Linked DNA regions of Homo sapiens: region 2 is linked to region 1. The links come from fine-mapping of genetic effects on gene expression. A gene starts in region 1. The other region holds a variant in brackets. All regions are shown on one strand. Distances are between the middles of the regions. Region 1 holds the start of NCAPD2 (non-SMC condensin I complex subunit D2). Region 2 overlaps NCAPD2 (non-SMC condensin I complex subunit D2).

Evidence for each region. PIP is the estimated chance that this variant, and not a neighbour inherited with it, causes the effect.
Region 2: its variant is fine-mapped to the expression of NCAPD2 in whole blood (TOPMed, PIP above 0.99).

The regions. Positions count from the first base shown.
Region 1 is chr12:6,489,673-6,498,002 of GRCh38, forward strand. NCAPD2 (non-SMC condensin I complex subunit D2) reads left to right here and starts at 4,430. Exons shown (of 32, transcript NM_014865.4): 1 at 4,430-4,482; 2 at 5,404-5,553. The coding sequence starts at 5,427. It overlaps MRPL51 (mitochondrial ribosomal protein L51), which reads right to left and starts at 3,590. Exons shown (of 3, transcript NM_016497.4): 1 at 3,386-3,590; 2 at 3,190-3,300; 3 at 2,214-2,795. The coding sequence starts at 3,464. The coding sequence ends at 2,599. RefSeq lists enhancers at 3,808-3,857, 4,025-4,622 and a silencer at 4,058-4,387.
Region 2 is chr12:6,521,219-6,529,548 of GRCh38, forward strand. It overlaps NCAPD2 (non-SMC condensin I complex subunit D2), which reads left to right. Exons shown (of 32, transcript NM_014865.4): 15 at 580-819; 16 at 1,610-1,784; 17 at 2,044-2,128; 18 at 4,365-4,498; 19 at 4,850-4,982; 20 at 5,069-5,153; 21 at 5,230-5,397; 22 at 5,673-5,845; 23 at 6,559-6,670; 24 at 6,750-6,873; 25 at 6,955-7,110; 26 at 7,461-7,638; 27 at 7,727-7,821; 28 at 8,295-8,330. Among named protein-coding and RNA genes, the nearest start is that of GAPDH-DT, 9.0 kb to the right of the region's middle. The variant T/C (reference allele first, on the strand shown) is at 3,237.

The sequences.
Region 1 (8,330 bases):
GAACAACAGTATACAGTCATGGTCTTTCATCAGGGCTATGTTAATTCTGTTCTCTGTCATGATGTAATCTAAAAAATGTGGACCATTTGCACATTCTGCAGAGTATCACATTGGTCCACCATCTTGTAACTTTACATCCTTCAGACGTCTTTTTTTTTTTTTTTTTCTTTTTTTAAAGACAGAGTCTCCCTCTGTTGCCCAGGCTGAAGTGCATGGTGCAATCTCAGCTCACTGCAACCTCTCTGTCTCCCGGATTCAAGCGATTCTCCTGCCTCAGCCTCCCGAGTAGCTGGGATTACAGGCACACACCACTATACCTGGCTAATTTTTTTGTATTTTTAGTACAGACGAGGTTTCACCATGTTGGCCAGGATGGTCTTGATCTCCTGACCTCGTGATCCGCCCACCTAGGCCTTCCAAAGTGCTGGGATTACAGGTGTGAGCCACCGGACATCTTTTAAGTAGAATGAAGACTACTTAGAGGTAGGAACCAACCCTACCTTGGTGATTTTTGTTCCTCCAAATATCTTTGCACATAATAATTCAATATTTATTCAAAGAAAACGTTATATACTGTTTCATACCACAAACAAGATTGTTCTGTCCTTGAAAACAAAACCTTTTGTATCTTTGAATCAGGAAATATTCTATAAATGCCTATTGACCTATTAATTTCCTCTTCCCTAACAATCAGATACTCTACCAGGATATGTAGATATCTTCTTCAGGGCACCTTGCACTTAGCAGAGTCCCAAATATTTTATTTTCTCCACTCTAGCACCACCAAATCATGTAAAGTATACAGCCACTCACATTTCACATCAACTTCTCCATTCTTATGCATAGCTCCTTCCAGCCACCCCTCTGAAAACTGACTCTCCTAAACATTTCCGTAAGACCCAGGATCATGTTTTCATATATACCCATCAATCCATTTATCCAAAACCCACTTGTAATTTAACAAGTGCTTTTTATTTTTATTGAAGATGGGGTCTTGCTATGTTCCTAAGGCTGGCCTCCAACTCCTGGTTTCAAAGGATCCTCCCACCTCAGCCTGCAGAGTAGCTGGGATTATAAGTGTGCTCCAACCACCATGCCCCGCAACAAGTATTTATTAATCTAACTTCACTTTTATGGAGTTTTTGTTTTTTAAAATATAGAGATGGGGTCTTGCTATGTTGCCCAGGCTGGTCTTGAACTCCTGGCTTCAAGCAATCCTCATGCCTTGGCCTCCCAAAGTGTTGGGCTTACAGGTGTGAGCCACTGCACCCAGCCCTAACTTCACTTTTTTTTTTTTTTTTTTTTTGAGACAGTCTCACCCCAGTTGCTCAGGCTGGAATGCAGTGGCATGATCTCAGCTCACTGCAGCCTCAAACTCCTGGGCTCAGGTGATCTTCCCACCTCAGCCTCTTGTGTAGCTGGGACTGCAGGCACGCAGAACCATGAGTAGCTGGAACTACAGGCATGCAGAACCATGCCCAGCTAAGTTGTTTTTTTTTTTTTTTTGAGACAGAGTCTTGCTCTGTTGCTCAGGCTGGAGTGCAGTGGCACGATCTCGGCTCACTGCAAGCTCCACCTCCCAGGTTCAAGTGATTCTCCTGCCTCAGACACCTGAGTAGCTGGGACTACAGGTGTCCGCCACCACTCCTGGCTAATTTTTTTGTTTGTTTGTTTTTGTATTTTCAGTAGAGACAGGGCTGTGTTAGCCAGGATAGTCTCGATCTCCTGAGCTCGTGGTCCGCCCCCCTCCGCCTCCCAAGGTGCTGGGATTACAGGCAGGAGCCACCGCACCCAGCCACTTTATTTTTAGTAGAGACGGAGTTTCACCATGTCGCCCAGACCAGTCTCAAATTCCTGTCTCCAAGCAATCCTCCCACCTCAGCCTCCCAAAATGCTGGGATTACATGTGGGCACCATTCTGCCCAGCTGTAATTCTTAAAAATTATTATTAAAAAAGAACAAAACACATAGATGCCCTAGACTCAACTCAGCTCTACTGATCAATCTTTAGGGGTTAGGACTAGGCTTTTGAAATGTTAAAACACCCAGAAAACTGATGACCAGTCAGGCTTAGTATCCGCCATCTCTACCATTCATATGGTACTTAATGTTTCATATTTAAATGGAAAGGACACCTCACACTTTTTTGTTTTTCCTATAGTTCCTACTCAGAGAATATGCCTAATAAATATTTTATGAGAGTAGTACAGAAGTATGACTCCATTTTTCTCTTATATTTCATTTCAGTGTGGAAGGCTCTTTAGAAACACTATTAACATAACAGCATTATGTCAAAAAGCGCCAATAACATTCTCACCAACTTTTCTTTTTAAAGGAATTAGGTATAGCTAGACTGTAAAAGGCAAGTGGTGTGAAGCCCAAACCTAAGATCCTAAGATCTAGGATGAGTCAAGACTTCATAGTCTACATGAGTAGAGGCAGCATCTAGAGGAAAACAAAAGTATGTGGCTATCAAATTCCAAAGAAGCCCCATTTTATTACAGAGAAAATACAAAGCCGTTTCCTCACAGGGAAAAGTACAGTTTCCCTTCTCCAGGGTGACAGATGAGCCTTTTCCGAAGTTCTCAGCTTTCTCTTCTATCGAAACTTCCCATGTCGGTTAAAGTGTTTGTAGAGATAGCGGATGCGTTTATTAAGGTTGTGCAGGTCATCAGCGAACATTCTACTTCCAACCATTTTCCTCTTTCGGATACAACGTTGCAATTCATTCCCTTTCCAACCTCGAAGCCATATGGGCCCCCTGATCAGTTCTTTGGGGTGCTTTTCAAAGTTTCCTGTGTAATGTGAGAGAACACATTAGATCCAAGACAAGAGAACTCATCCTACACCAGCTAAGCTTTCAACCCACGGTTGCATCTTGCTGAGCAGCACCTATAGACAAGGAACATTACAGTACAGAACAATAGCACAGACTCTGGAGCCAGACTGCTTGGGGTTAAAATTCTGATGCTGCCATTTATTAACTTTGGAAAAACTGTTTATTTTTACTTATGAAGTAAAAATTATACGAGGGGACTCAGAACAGTGCCAAACACAATGTAAACAGCTACATAAGTGTTTGCTCTTACTATTGAGCACAGTACCACTCTCTACACAGGAGGAAAAGATAGTCGTTACAGCCTAATTGCCATTCTGAAATTGTGTACCACGTCGAAGGTCAAGTCTTACCCAGGATCCCGATGTTGTCATACACTCCGAACATGGCCCTTTTCTCGTTCCAACGATCAACCACTTTGGGGGGCGGGAGAGTGAGCCTTATACCGATCAATCTAGGCACACCTGGGGATGGGGAAGGGAGGGAATTAATCTGAGCCGCCTATTATACTACGAAGCAGTTATCGGGGTGCCTACATCAGCCACTTACCAAGAGAGAAGCTTCTGCACGCCAGAGGCACCCAGTCCCACAGGCGCCTACCTGCCCCGGATAAGAGGTTCCCTGCCATTTCTCTAGTCTCCCCCCTTCAACAGCACACCAAATAAGCCCAAGAAGATGACAGGAACCGTCCCCGCCAACTTCACACGAGTACTAAGGCGAAGACAGCCATCTTGGGCCTTACCCAGGCAGCTGTGGGCGCACCGCCCACCTACGCCCCATCCGCAACAGCCACGAGCCCCGCCCCCCGGGTTCCGGCAGGAGGGGCCTCTACCACCCTTCCCGCCTCAGTGCTTCCGGTCCGCCTGCCGGAAGTTTTGGAGCGCCGGACAAGCTGAGGTCCGCGACTCGTCGCTAAGATTCCCCAAAACTGAGATTTCAAGAAAATTCACCCTTTCCGCTTTCTTTGGCGTCCTTCAACCGTGAAGGAAATGAAGGTTGAGAACCTGGAACCCGCTTCCAATGACCAAGCCCTTTCTCTGTGCCTCACAACAGTCTTCCGCTGTAGCTGTTTTTATTACCCCTATTTTACTACTGGGGAGGAGATTTGAGGTCCTGAAAGTGAAGTGACTTGCTGGACGTCACTTAGCAGAGGAGATGGCGAAACCTGGATTAGAGGCGATGCCTTCTAACTCCCAGCGTGGACTTGCCTCCTTTCCTGGGGGTGACTGAATGCCCAGCCAGGGACGCGACGTCTCTGGCCAGCAGAAATACGGCCTCCTCCCCGCCGACTGGGCAAAGGGGGACCTTGCGGCCAAGGAGGGATTCGCAGGCGGGCCGGGGGTGGGAGCGGGGGCCGGAGCCGGAGCCTTGGCCCGCCCCCGGGCGGCGCTGTGATTGGCCGGCCGCTCCGGCGGGCGTCGCGATTGGCCGTCCTGCAGCCGTTGAGATTTGAACTCGGTATTTGTGGCTTTGCCCGCGCGTTGCCAGACTCAGAGGCGGCCCTTTGCCTCTGCCTGCCGGGGATTGGCCGGATTCTCCGCCGACTTGAAAACTGCCTTGCTAATTGGTGCGTGTTGTGCACGCGTGTTTTTTCCTTTTCATTTCAGCCTGACTGCCGGAATCAGAGCCGCGGGTGAGATCCCCAGGTAAGATGTGGTGTTGCAGGTCGTAAAAGAGTAGGAAAGTCGAGTACATGGCAGTGTGACCCAGTCTTGGGCAAAATACAATAGGCCTAGTAAGTATATCCCTGGGGCGCGATGTGTGAGAAACTGTAAGTCTGACAGATCCGCAACGGAAGTTGTTAAGCAAATCGCTTAACAGATCCGCAACGGAAGATGTTAAGCAAATCGCTTAACAGATCCGCAACGGAAGATGTTAAGCAAATCGCTTAACTTTCTTACTTCAATTTCCGCTCTGTAAACTCATTTGTATTATTATGCACCTCATGGGATTGAGGTTAGGATACTTAGATCAGATATGATACATGCAAACAGCCTAACAGACTTGGCACAGGATAAATAAATCATCATTGTTAATGCTCTTACCATTCTGGTGCAGGAAGCCCACTAGCCCATGCTGGGGCACTGTTTTGGCCTCAGACGAGATCAGACCATTCTCTCTATACTTAAGGAGCTTTGCACATAAAAATGGAAATAATAGTACTTTGCACATTAATATGCCACTTTATAGTTCTTTAAACACCTTCGTACTGCTTGATTTGTTTGATCATCAGAGCAACTTTGTGAAGTAATCAGAGTTTAGTAACCCTGTTTTTACAGATAAAGCCCAGAGGTTTAAGTGTCAAGACCAAGTGCCAAAGTCACTACTAGAATTAGTTTCTAGTCCAGGGTCAATCTCAGATCCCGTAAGATAATGTTACTAGCTTGCTATAAAACTAAAAACCATTATATATGTTGGGGGTGGGGAACTAACAAAACCAGATGATGTTACTAGCTTGCTATAAAACTAAAAGCCATTATATATGTTGGGGATGGGAAAGTAATAGAACCAGATACGAAGACAGGTCTTGAATATAGACCCTGACTTTTTCACTGTTTGGTTTCTAGCCCTGTGAGCCTGTAGGAGTAGAATGGCTCCCCAAATGTATGAGTTCCATCTGCCATTATCCCCAGAGGAGTTGTTGAAAAGTGGAGGGGTGAATCAGTATGTTGTGCAAGAGGTACTGTCCATCAAACATCTTCCACCACAGCTTAGAGGTAAGAGTCCATAGCTGTCACTGTACCTAGCTCTTTCAAAGGACCATCTCACATGGAATTGCTACATTGTCATTTCTGTTCCACTACACCAGGAAGCATCATAAGAGCAAGAAACATGTTTTTCCTATTTTGCTGTTTTATCCTAAAATTGCATGGGATGCATGACCCAAAGAGTACATTCATTAACTTCCTTTTCTGGATTAGTCAAAAACAGTCTTGGTGTATGTGATTACTCTTTGGGGAAAAGTTATTTTCCATCTTTACCCCTTACTGTGTGTCAAAATTAAGTCCTGGTGGATTTAAGAGTTATAGGAGTGGATCGCTTTTTCAGAATGTCTCGGACTTAACTCGACCTGTTTTTGGTAATACCTTTTTGGAGTCTTTTTGGATGTGCAATTATGGGGACAAAAACCCATAATATATATGTACCACTGCAACACTGAGCAATATATGTACAGTGCAGTCACCTACTGAAACCTGTAAATGATCAAAAGCACCTTTTGCATTACCAGAAAGACTTCATAATGTCCTTGTACTTGTTGGGAGCGGTCTTGTAGCAGTTAGCTTGCTTTGGAGAGGTATAGAGATTAAAGACTGGAGCCAGGCTGCCTGGATTTGAATCCTGGTTCTACCACTCTGACCTTAGACAAGTTACTTAATTGTCTCAGTGCCTTGGTTTCGTCATCTGTAAATATAGAGATAATAACCAATTCCTTTGTTATCACCTACAAGAAGAAGGGTTGGTTAATGCAGCAGCTCGACAATATGGTCCTAGCTTGTCTCCTCTTGGCTTTTCTTTCATGGTTGCTAGATTGCAACTTCTTTTTGTTTTTCTTTTTTTTTTTTTTTTGAGACAGGGTCTCACTCTGTTGCCCAGACTGGAGTGCAGTGATGCGATATCGGCTCACCACAACCTCTGCCTCCCCAGGCTCAAGCGATTCTCCTGCTTCAGCCTCCCAAGTAGCTAGGATTACAGGTGCACGCCACTACCACCTGGCTAATTTTTGTATTTTTAGTAGAGACGGGATTTCACCATGTTGGCCAGGCTGGTCTTGAACTCCTGACCTCACATGATCCACCCACCTTGGCCTCCCAAAGTGTTAGGATTATAGGCGTGAGCCACTGCACCAGTCTAGATGGCAGCTTCTTCCTCTAATGTCCAGAAGTGGAAAAAGGAATTTTCTTTTTGTACTTTTTATTCTTTATTTTATTTTGAAAGACAAGGTAAAGACTCTCTTGCCCAGGCTGGAGTCCAGTGGCATGATCACGGCTCACTGCAGCCTCAACTTCCCAGACTCAAGCAATCCTCTCACCTCAGCCTCCCAAGCAGCTGGGATCACAGACATGCACCACCATACCTGGCTAATTTTTAAATTTTCTGTAGAAACAGTGTCTCCCTATGTTGCCCAGGCTGGTCTCGAACTTCTGGGCTCAAGCAGTCTTCCCGCCTCAGCCTCCCAAAGTGCTGGGATTGCAGGCTGGAATGCAGTGGCCTGATCACAGCTCACTGCAGCCTCAATCTACCAGGCTCAAGCAGTCCTCCCACCTCAGCCTCCCAAGTAGCTGGGACCACAGACATGTACCAAAGTGCTGGGATTGTAGGCATGAGGCACCATGCTCGGCCAGACTTTTTTGTTAAAAACTAAAACACCTACACACATTAGCCTAGGCCTACACAGGGTCAAGGTCACCAAGAAGTCACTAGACGATGGGAATTTTTCAGCTGTATTATATTTTTATGACACCACTGTCGCATATGTGGTCTATTGTTTACCAAAATGTTACAGGGCACAGGACTGTACAGGTAAGAGAAATAGAATTACCCAGACTGGTTTAACTGATCAAGCTTATTACCTAGGAGCCTCCCTAAACTTGAGCATATCAACCATTTGGTAAGCAAGGAAGAAGGCAGAGTGTGGAGGTTGCCTAATGGATGGCAAACCAACAGTGTCCACAGGTATACTATTCTGTCCATATCATGTGGATATATGTGTCACCAATTGAACATGCTGCATACTATGACAAACTACTCTTCACTTATTATAATGATGCATCATTTTTTTAAATGGTCACCTTTTTTTTTTTAAGTTCTGGAGTACACGTACAGGATGTGCAAGTTTGTTACATAGGTAAACGTGCTGTGTTGGTTTGCTGCACCTATCAACCCATCACCTGGGTATTAAGCCCAGCATGTATTAGCTATTTTTTTCTTATGCTCCCCCTCCCCCCATTCCACCCTCTAACAGGCTCCATTGTGTTGTTCCCCTCCCTGTGTCCATGTGATCTCATTGTTCAGCTCCCACTTGTAAGTAAGAACATGCAGTGTTTGGTTTTCTGTTCTTGCATTAGTTTGCTGAGTCCCTGCAAAGGACATGATCTTGTTCCTGTCACTTTTTTGTTGTTGTTGTTGTTGAGACTGAGTCTCCTTCTGTCACCCAGGCTGGAGTGCAGTGGCGCAATCTCAGCTCACTGCAGCCTCCGCCTCCCGAGTTCAAGTGATTCTCCTACCTCAGCCTCCTAAGTAGCTGGGATTACAGGCAATGCCACCACGCCCGGCTAATTTTTGTATTTTTAGTTGAGACAGGGTTTCACCATGTTGGTCAGGCTGGTCTCCAACTCCTGACCTGATGATCCACCCGCCTCGACCTCCCAAAGTGCTGGGATTACAGGCGTGAGCCACCGCGCCCAGCCACTTTTTTTTTTTTTAAAGAGTCTTTTGTTTTTTGGAGACAAGGTCTCATTTTGTTGCCCAGGCTGGAGTGCAGTGGCTCCATCCG
Region 2 (8,330 bases), 32 kb after region 1:
GCCCAGAGATGAATTGGCATTACTTTTGCTCTGGAATGGAAGCAGCCCACGGGCCTAAGATTGATAGTCACAGGGTGACTGTCCAGACCATAGCGGTCTTTAGGTATGGTTTTTGAGAAATTTAGATATTTTAGAGTAAGTTTTAATTTCATATCTTCACATTGTGAAAAGAGATATCCAGGGCCAGATGTCGTGGCTTATGCCTGTAATCCTAACACTTTGGGAGGCCAAGGCAGGAGGATTGCTTGAGCCCAGGAGTTGAAAATCAGCCTGAGCAACATGACGAAACCCCCATCTCTACAAGGGATACCAAAAAAAAATTAGCCAGGTGCGGTGGCACGCACCTGTAGTCCCAACTGCTCAGGAGCTGAAGTGAGAGAATCACCTTAGCCCGGGGAAGTTGAGGCTGCAGTGAGCGGTGATCATTGCCACTGCACAGCCTAGGCAACAGAGTGAGACCCCATCTCAAAAGAAAAGAAGAAGGAAAATAAATAAGTAAATATCCAGGAATGTTGACAGCTGTTGGATTCCCCTGTATCCCCTTGAACGAAACCATCCTGTACTTCTCTAACTCCTTAGGCCCAGCAGCTTCCACACAAGAAAAGAATCCCCGGGAGTCTACAGGAAACATGGTCACAGGACAGACTGTCTGTAAAAATAAACCCAATATGTCGGATCCTGAGGAATCCAGGGGAAATGATGAACTAGTGAAGCAGGAGATGCTGGTACAGTATCTGCAGGATGCCTACAGCTTCTCCCGGAAGATTACAGAGGCCATTGGCATCATCAGCAAGATGATGTATGAAAACACAACTACAGGTATGCCAGAGTCCCTTTCTATAAGGACAGCCTTGGGGTTCTTTTGGATTTTTTAATTTTTTAAATTTTTATTAACAATAGAGATGGGGCCTTCCTTTGTTGCTCAGGCTGGTCTCCAACTCCTGGGCTCAGGCAATTCTTCTGCGTCAGCCTCCCAAAGTGCTGGTATTACAGGTGTGAGCCACTGCACCCGGCCATGGATCTTGGAGTTCTTTTCCATATTTTATTGATATATCTATCTGCTCCTTTAAAAGGCAGGGGTTCTCGGCTGGGCGCGATGGCTCATGCCTGTAATCCCTACAAAACTGGGAGGCCAAAGCAGGAAGACAGGTTGAGGCCAGGAGTTCGAGAGCAGCCTGGGCAACATAGCAAGACCCCATCTCTACAAAGAAACAAAAACTAACTGGGCGTGATGGCACGCACCTGTAGTTCCAGCTACTCGGAAGGCTGGGCAGGAGGATTGCTTGAGCCCGGGAGTTTGAGGCTACAGTGAGCTGTGGTCATGCCACTGCACTCTAGCCGGAGCAACAGAATAAGAACCTGTGTCTTAAGAAAAGAAAAAAAAAAGGCAGGGGTTCTTTTTTTCTGTTTGCTTCCTCTAGCCACTTACAGCTTATACATTTTAATGCATATAGTATTTCATGATAAGGCATCATAGGAGGAGTCGACATTCTCAGGGAAAATGCGGAAGGCCTCCATTTGCATCTTGCTACATTCAGAAAGGTTCTGTCGTTAGGTATTGGGGGAGTTTTGTGAAGTAGATAGGTGACATTTGTACATGTTCTCTCAGTGGTGCAGGAGGTGATTGAATTCTTTGTGATGGTCTTCCAATTTGGGGTACCCCAGGCCCTGTTTGGGGTGCGCCGTATGCTGCCTCTCATCTGGTCTAAGGAGCCTGGTGTCCGGGAAGCCGTGCTTAATGCCTACCGCCAACTCTACCTCAACCCCAAAGGGGACTCTGCCAGGTATATGGGGTGCTTTTGCCTTTGCTGACTTTTCCAAGGTCAGCTTCTCACAGGACTTCCCTTGTCTCCTAAAGGAAGAGGTGCATTTCTCCAGGGGAGTTCCAGATCCATAGGCAGTCCATCATAGTGGGGCTTAGGGTGGGGCTCGGTTTCCAGGGAGAGCAGTTTTGTAGCACTGTGGTGGGATAGCCCTAATCACTGTTTGCCAAGTTCAGCTTCCCAATCTTATAGTGACCGCTGATCTCTGCTGTTCCCACAGAGCCAAGGCCCAGGCTTTGATTCAGAATCTCTCTCTGCTGCTAGTGGATGCCTCGGTTGGGACCATTCAGTGTCTTGAGGAAATTGTAAGGCTTCCTGCTTTCTCTTTCTTTATTCATTCAACAAGTATTTTGGTTGTTTTTTTTTTTTTTTTTGAGACGGAGTCATGCCCCATTGCCCAGGCTGGAGTGCAATGGCACAATCTTGGCTCACTGCAACCTCCGCCTCCCAGGTTCAAGCAATTCTCCTGCCTCAGCCTCCCGAGTAACTGGAATTACATGCATGTGCCACCATGCCCGACTAGTTTTTTGTATCTTTAGTAGAGACGGGGTTTCACCATGTTGGCCGAGCTGGTCTCGAACCCTTGACCTCGTGATCCACCCGCCTCAACCTCCCAGAGTGCTGGGATTACAGGCGTGAGCCAAAGCGCCCGGCAACAAGTATTATTGAGTTATTACTATGTATTTAGCAATTTACTTAGCTCCAGAAAGAAGTATAAGACTATTTGCTTTCATGTTCCCAACTTTAAAGGAACCAACAGTCTAGTTGGTAGTGAAAAACCACAGAACATTTTTAGAACAATGCAGCAGGTAGATAATAAAGTGCCAGAATGAGTTGTACGGGTAATGGTTGTCATAGCAATAATAACAACCTCACTTATATGGTATTGAATATATGACAGGCACTCACACGTTACTCACAGTAACTTGTTTAATCCTCACGACAGCCCTGTGAGGTAGCATTATCTGCATTTTACAATGAGAAATCTGAGGCACAGAGAAGTTACTGAACTTGGCTGGTTACAGCTAGTTAGTGGCAAAGTTTGAGATTCAAACTCAGGCAATAAGAGCTCTAGAAAACATACTCTTAACTTCTGTGTTCTACTGAGGGATACAGAGTAGGAAAGAGAGCGGTTTGGGGTAGAATGGTCAAGGAAGCTTCCTGAAGGTGGTAGGACTTAAGCTGGGTCTTGAAAGATGAGTAGGATTTAGAGAATCAGAGCAAGGAGGGAGGGCATTTCAAACAGAACCCAAGAAAGAGCACAGTTCACATTGTAGAACAAAGAAGACTGTGTTCTGGTTCAAATTATCTGGAAAAGACCAGGCGCGATGGCTCACGTCTGTAATCCCAGCACTTTGGGAGGCCAAGGCAGCAGATTACCTGAGGTCTGAGGTCAGGAGTTCGAGACCAGCC[T/C]GGTCAACATGGCGAAACCCCACCTTTACTAAAAATACAAAAAAATTAGCCAGGTGTGGTGGTGGGCACCTGTAGTCCCAGCTACTTGGGAGGCTGAGGCAGGACAGTTGCTTGAACCCAGGAGGTGGAGGTAGCAGTGAGCCGAGATTGCGCCACTGCACTCCAGCCTGGGCGACAGAGGGAGACTCTGTCTCAAAAAAAAAAAAAAAAAAAAAAATCTGGAAAAGATAATAAAGTTGTGAATGTAGGTTGGAACTAAACTGTGGAAGTCCCTGAATGACTTCAGGAGTCTAGGACTTTAACTGTGTTAGCCAGGCACCCAGCATTTTAGTGAGACATTCTGCTTTGTAGCATTTGCATTGCGGGCACAGAGAGTGGAGGTGGCGCTGGGAAGCGTGCTCCTGCCAGCCACATTTTTCTCCTCACTGGGGAAAAGAAAAGAGCCTGGTGGTGGTGATTGGCCATGATGTCATAGGTCAGTTACCGGCAAAAGCCCTACAAGAGGCAGGGGAGAGCACCTGCAAACTGGGGTGCAACAGAAGGGACGTGGGGAAGCAGAGGCTGAGGAGACCAACCCATGGGAAGGAAGGCCCGTGGAGGCTGCTGCAGTGGGCAGTAACGAGGGGCTGGACTTGAGGATTGGAGAAATCACTGCAGAATGGGCTTAATGGAAGACAAATTTTTAAAGGAAAAATAGTGACTGATTTGTAAAAAAATTAGATGACCGAAATTTTAAGCACATATTACTGATAGAGTGTTGATACCACTGGCAAAATGAAAAGGCAAGGAAGGATGATGGCTTCCATGTTGGACATGTTGAGTTTGTGGTAACGGCAAGAAAACCTGTTAGAAATCTCCAGACTTAGAACTATGGACCCACGTGGAACTCAAAAGGTCAGTTTCGATATGTCACTTGAATAAAATAGTTTTGAAGGCATGAGAGTAGAAAAGTAGAGAATGGAAAGCCTCTCAAGACCCTGCTGTACATTTTGAACCTCCTCTTTTCTTTTTCTCTTCCTAAGTATTACTTTTGTCTACTTCAGGTTCGCAATATCATCTTCAGAAAAGCAGACCAAAGATCAAGGAATTGTTCATTTTTGGCTTGAGCCCTTTTTCTTTTCTCTTTAGCTCTGTGAGTTTGTGCAGAAGGATGAGTTGAAACCAGCAGTGACCCAGCTGCTGTGGGAGCGGGCCACCGAGAAGGTCGCCTGCTGTCCTCTGGAGCGCTGTTCCTCTGTCATGCTTCTTGGCATGATGGCACGGTGAGGCTCAAATCTAGCAGGCAATGGGGTGGGAGAGCAAAGGAAGGTTCTGAGAGGGCTCCTTTTCCTTCAGTGACATTGTCACAGTGAGGCCCAACTGAGCTCTGCTGTGAGTTATAACGCCACCTAAATGGAAAAGCAAATAGTGAGAGGACCAGCCCTCCTGCCTAGTAGTAGTGGGATTCAGTAAAGCAACAGGACCCAAGAGGCTGGCCCTGCGGCAGAGCCACGCTATAGTGCTCCACGGCTCTAGACACCACATGAGGTGCTGGTACCTACCCCTATTGGCCCTTTCTCCCCCGATGAGTCCAATCCATGACTGCCTTTAACTCTGTGGCTTCCTTCCCCTAGAGGAAAGCCAGAAATTGTGGGAAGCAATTTAGACACACTGGTGAGCATAGGGCTGGATGAGAAGTTTCCACAGGACTACAGGCTGGCCCAGCAGGTGTGCCATGCCATTGCCAACATCTCGGACAGGAGAAAGGTATGTGGGGGTGGTTCCAAACTAAGGAGAGTGGAGATTCTCGTGTCCACCCTGTACACACACCCACGTTGTCTTGCTCTCCACAGCCTTCTCTGGGCAAACGTCACCCCCCCTTCCGGCTGCCTCAGGAACACAGGTTGTTTGAGCGACTGCGGGAGACAGTCACAAAAGGTGAGCTCTCAGGGAAGGCCTTGGGCAGAATTGGGCCCTTTGTTGCAGTAAACAACTTCTCCCTCCTCCTCTGCAGGCTTTGTCCACCCAGACCCACTCTGGATCCCATTCAAAGAGGTGGCAGTGACCCTCATTTACCAACTGGCAGAGGGCCCCGAAGTGATCTGTGCCCAGATATTGCAGGGCTGTGCAAAACAGGCCCTGGAGAAGCTAGAAGAGAAGAGAACCAGTCAGGAGGACCCGAGTAAGTGGGCAGGGGTTGACCCACTGCGGCAGCCAGCTTCTGTTCTCCCTGCAGGGCCAGGAGCCACTGCCACCACCACTATCTGCAACAACCCTTAGTGTACACTGTGTCGTTTTTGTCTAAGTTGAAGTTGGGCCAGTTCCCACCCCCAACTCTTACTACTTCACTAGTTTGAATAGCACGTGAGCAAGGGGAAGATCAGTAAAAATCGGATTCAGGTTTGATGGGACTTAAAAATGTCTCTTTGCCCCACCTTCCCTCTCCCTCTCCTCCAGAGGAGTCCCCCGCAATGCTCCCCACTTTCCTGTTGATGAACCTGCTGTCCCTGGCTGGGGATGTGGCTCTGCAGCAGCTGGTCCACTTGGAGCAGGCAGTGAGTGGAGAGCTCTGCCGGCGCCGAGTTCTCCGGGAAGAACAGGAGCACAAGACCAAAGATCCCAAGGAGAAGGTGTGTGAATGTCCTCAGCACTTCCCAGATTTATTTCATACCTCAGCTCAGAACTGAGCTGATCCCCTTCCGGCAATCTCTGCTCCTCTGCTATTACATGAAGCGAAGAGTTTCTGCCTCTCTGTGGCTACTACCGTAGGAAAGGTTCGTGTGAACAATGACGAAACTGTCAGTGATCACCCAGGAAGGAAAGATTTAGGTAAATGCAGAGTGTGGAGTTAGAGACCTCAGCATAAAACAGAGGCTTTGTGTCTGAGGCAGGGTTTGTTAGAACACGCACGTACCCGCCGGCCTTTTCCATCAGCTTCCATTGCTGGCCTGGCCCCGGATGGGGCCCTGTGTTCCCTCCACTAGAGGCAATGATGTCTTGCAGACAAATAAGACACAGAGCCTTGCAGCGCTGGAGAAAAGTCTGACCTCTGTGACTTTGAACCATTGTCTGGCGTGATCCATCTGTTTACCATATATAGGAAACGATGTCTTCCATGAGGAAGAGGTGCAGAAACACGCTTTGGCAACTTAAAACAAATGGGGACCTCATTGTTCCCCTGCTTAATTCAGGAATCCTTTCTCTTTACAGACACATTTGACAATTCTCTAAATGTTTTTGTAGAATTTGCCCTTCCTCACTTTGTTCATGCAAAACAAAGTATGGGCTGGAATCAAAAATGTTGTCTCTGCTTATCCATGATCCCCAATTTCATTCCCTTTAGAATACGAGCTCTGAGACCACCATGGAGGAGGAGCTGGGGCTGGTTGGGGCAACAGCAGATGACACAGAGGCAGAACTAATCCGTGGCATCTGCGAGATGGAACTGTTGGATGGTAAGAAAAATGGCTGCACTCAGCAGTTTCTTCCCAATTAAGATAACCTGTCCCAAACCTGCAGTTACTCTTCCAACAGGCAAACAGACACTGGCTGCCTTTGTTCCACTCTTGCTTAAAGTCTGTAACAACCCAGGCCTCTATAGCAACCCAGACCTCTCTGCAGCTGCTTCACTTGCCCTTGGCAAGTTCTGCATGATCAGGTAGGCCGTGGGGTTGGTACCCCCTTCTCAAGGAAGATGGGGATGAAATGGCTTCCCTAATGATCCTCTTCTTGCTCTTAGTGCCACTTTCTGCGACTCCCAGCTTCGTCTTCTGTTCACCATGCTGGAAAAGTCTCCACTTCCCATTGTCCGGTCTAACCTCATGGTTGCCACTGGGGATCTGGCCATCCGCTTTCCCAATCTGGTGGACCCCTGGACTCCTCATCTGTATGCTCGGTAAGAGACCCCTCACAACGTGGTGGCAGTTCCCAGGAGCCCCGGAGTCTGTTGAGAGTCAGTGTGAGAATCACCAGGGCTCTTCCCCTAGGCTTTGGCATCACCGCGAACATCTGCTTGATACTTGACCTGTACAGGCCCCTGGCTAAGAGTCACCCCAGTGGGACTGACACTTCTGGTTAGAAGCTTCACCTCTTTCCCCCACTCCAGCTTTCAACTCTAGACAGCTTTCTGACTGCTTCTGGAGTGGCAGAGCATGGGATAATTGATTCCTGCTGAGGGCCTTTTCTACCAGTGTTAGGGTGTAGCCCGGAGGTCTCGGTCCCCATGACCCGCAATTCCATTCCTAGTCTCCGGGACCCTGCTCAGCAAGTGCGGAAAACAGCGGGGCTGGTGATGACCCACCTGATCCTCAAGGACATGGTGAAGGTGAAGGGGCAGGTCAGCGAGATGGCGGTGCTGCTCATCGACCCCGAGCCTCAGATTGCTGCCCTGGCCAAGAACTTCTTCAATGAGCTCTCCCACAAGGTGAGAGGCAGAGAGGCACTGAGGGCTGGCTGCAGAGGGAATCTGTAGGTCACCTCATCTCCTTAACATGGCTCTCTCTGTCTTACAGGGCAACGCAATCTATAATCTCCTTCCAGATATCATCAGCCGCCTGTCAGACCCCGAGCTGGGGGTGGAGGAAGAGCCTTTCCACACCATCATGAAGTATTGCTCCCCGGGCCCTGGGGCACATTTTCCACATAGCACGGGCTTAGGAATCAGACACACCTGTATTTGAATTCCACCTCGGCTACTCTTTAGCTGTACAGCCTTCGGCAATAACTTAGCCTCTCTTTGTGCCTATTTCCTCTTCTTTTGAGGCTGATGATACTTAACCCTTAGTTCTTGAAAATATTAAATACGATAAAGTTCCTAACATGGTGGCAGACATACAGTAGCACTCACTCCCTAGCAGCTGCTCCTGTTAATTTCCATTCACAGTGAAAATTCCTGAGCCGGGGGCGGGGTGGGGTCCCTCTCTGCTGAATGGGACAGGGCAAGGGGAGTGGTGAGGCAGACAGGGGCCGTGGCAGAGAACATCAGAGAAGACGAGTGCTGGGGGAGGGTCCAGGGTTGGTCTTAGTGGATGGCAGAGCTGGCCCTGGGCCATCGAACATCCTCATCTCCCCTTCCTGCAGACAGCTCCTCTCCTACATCACCAAGGACAAGCAGAC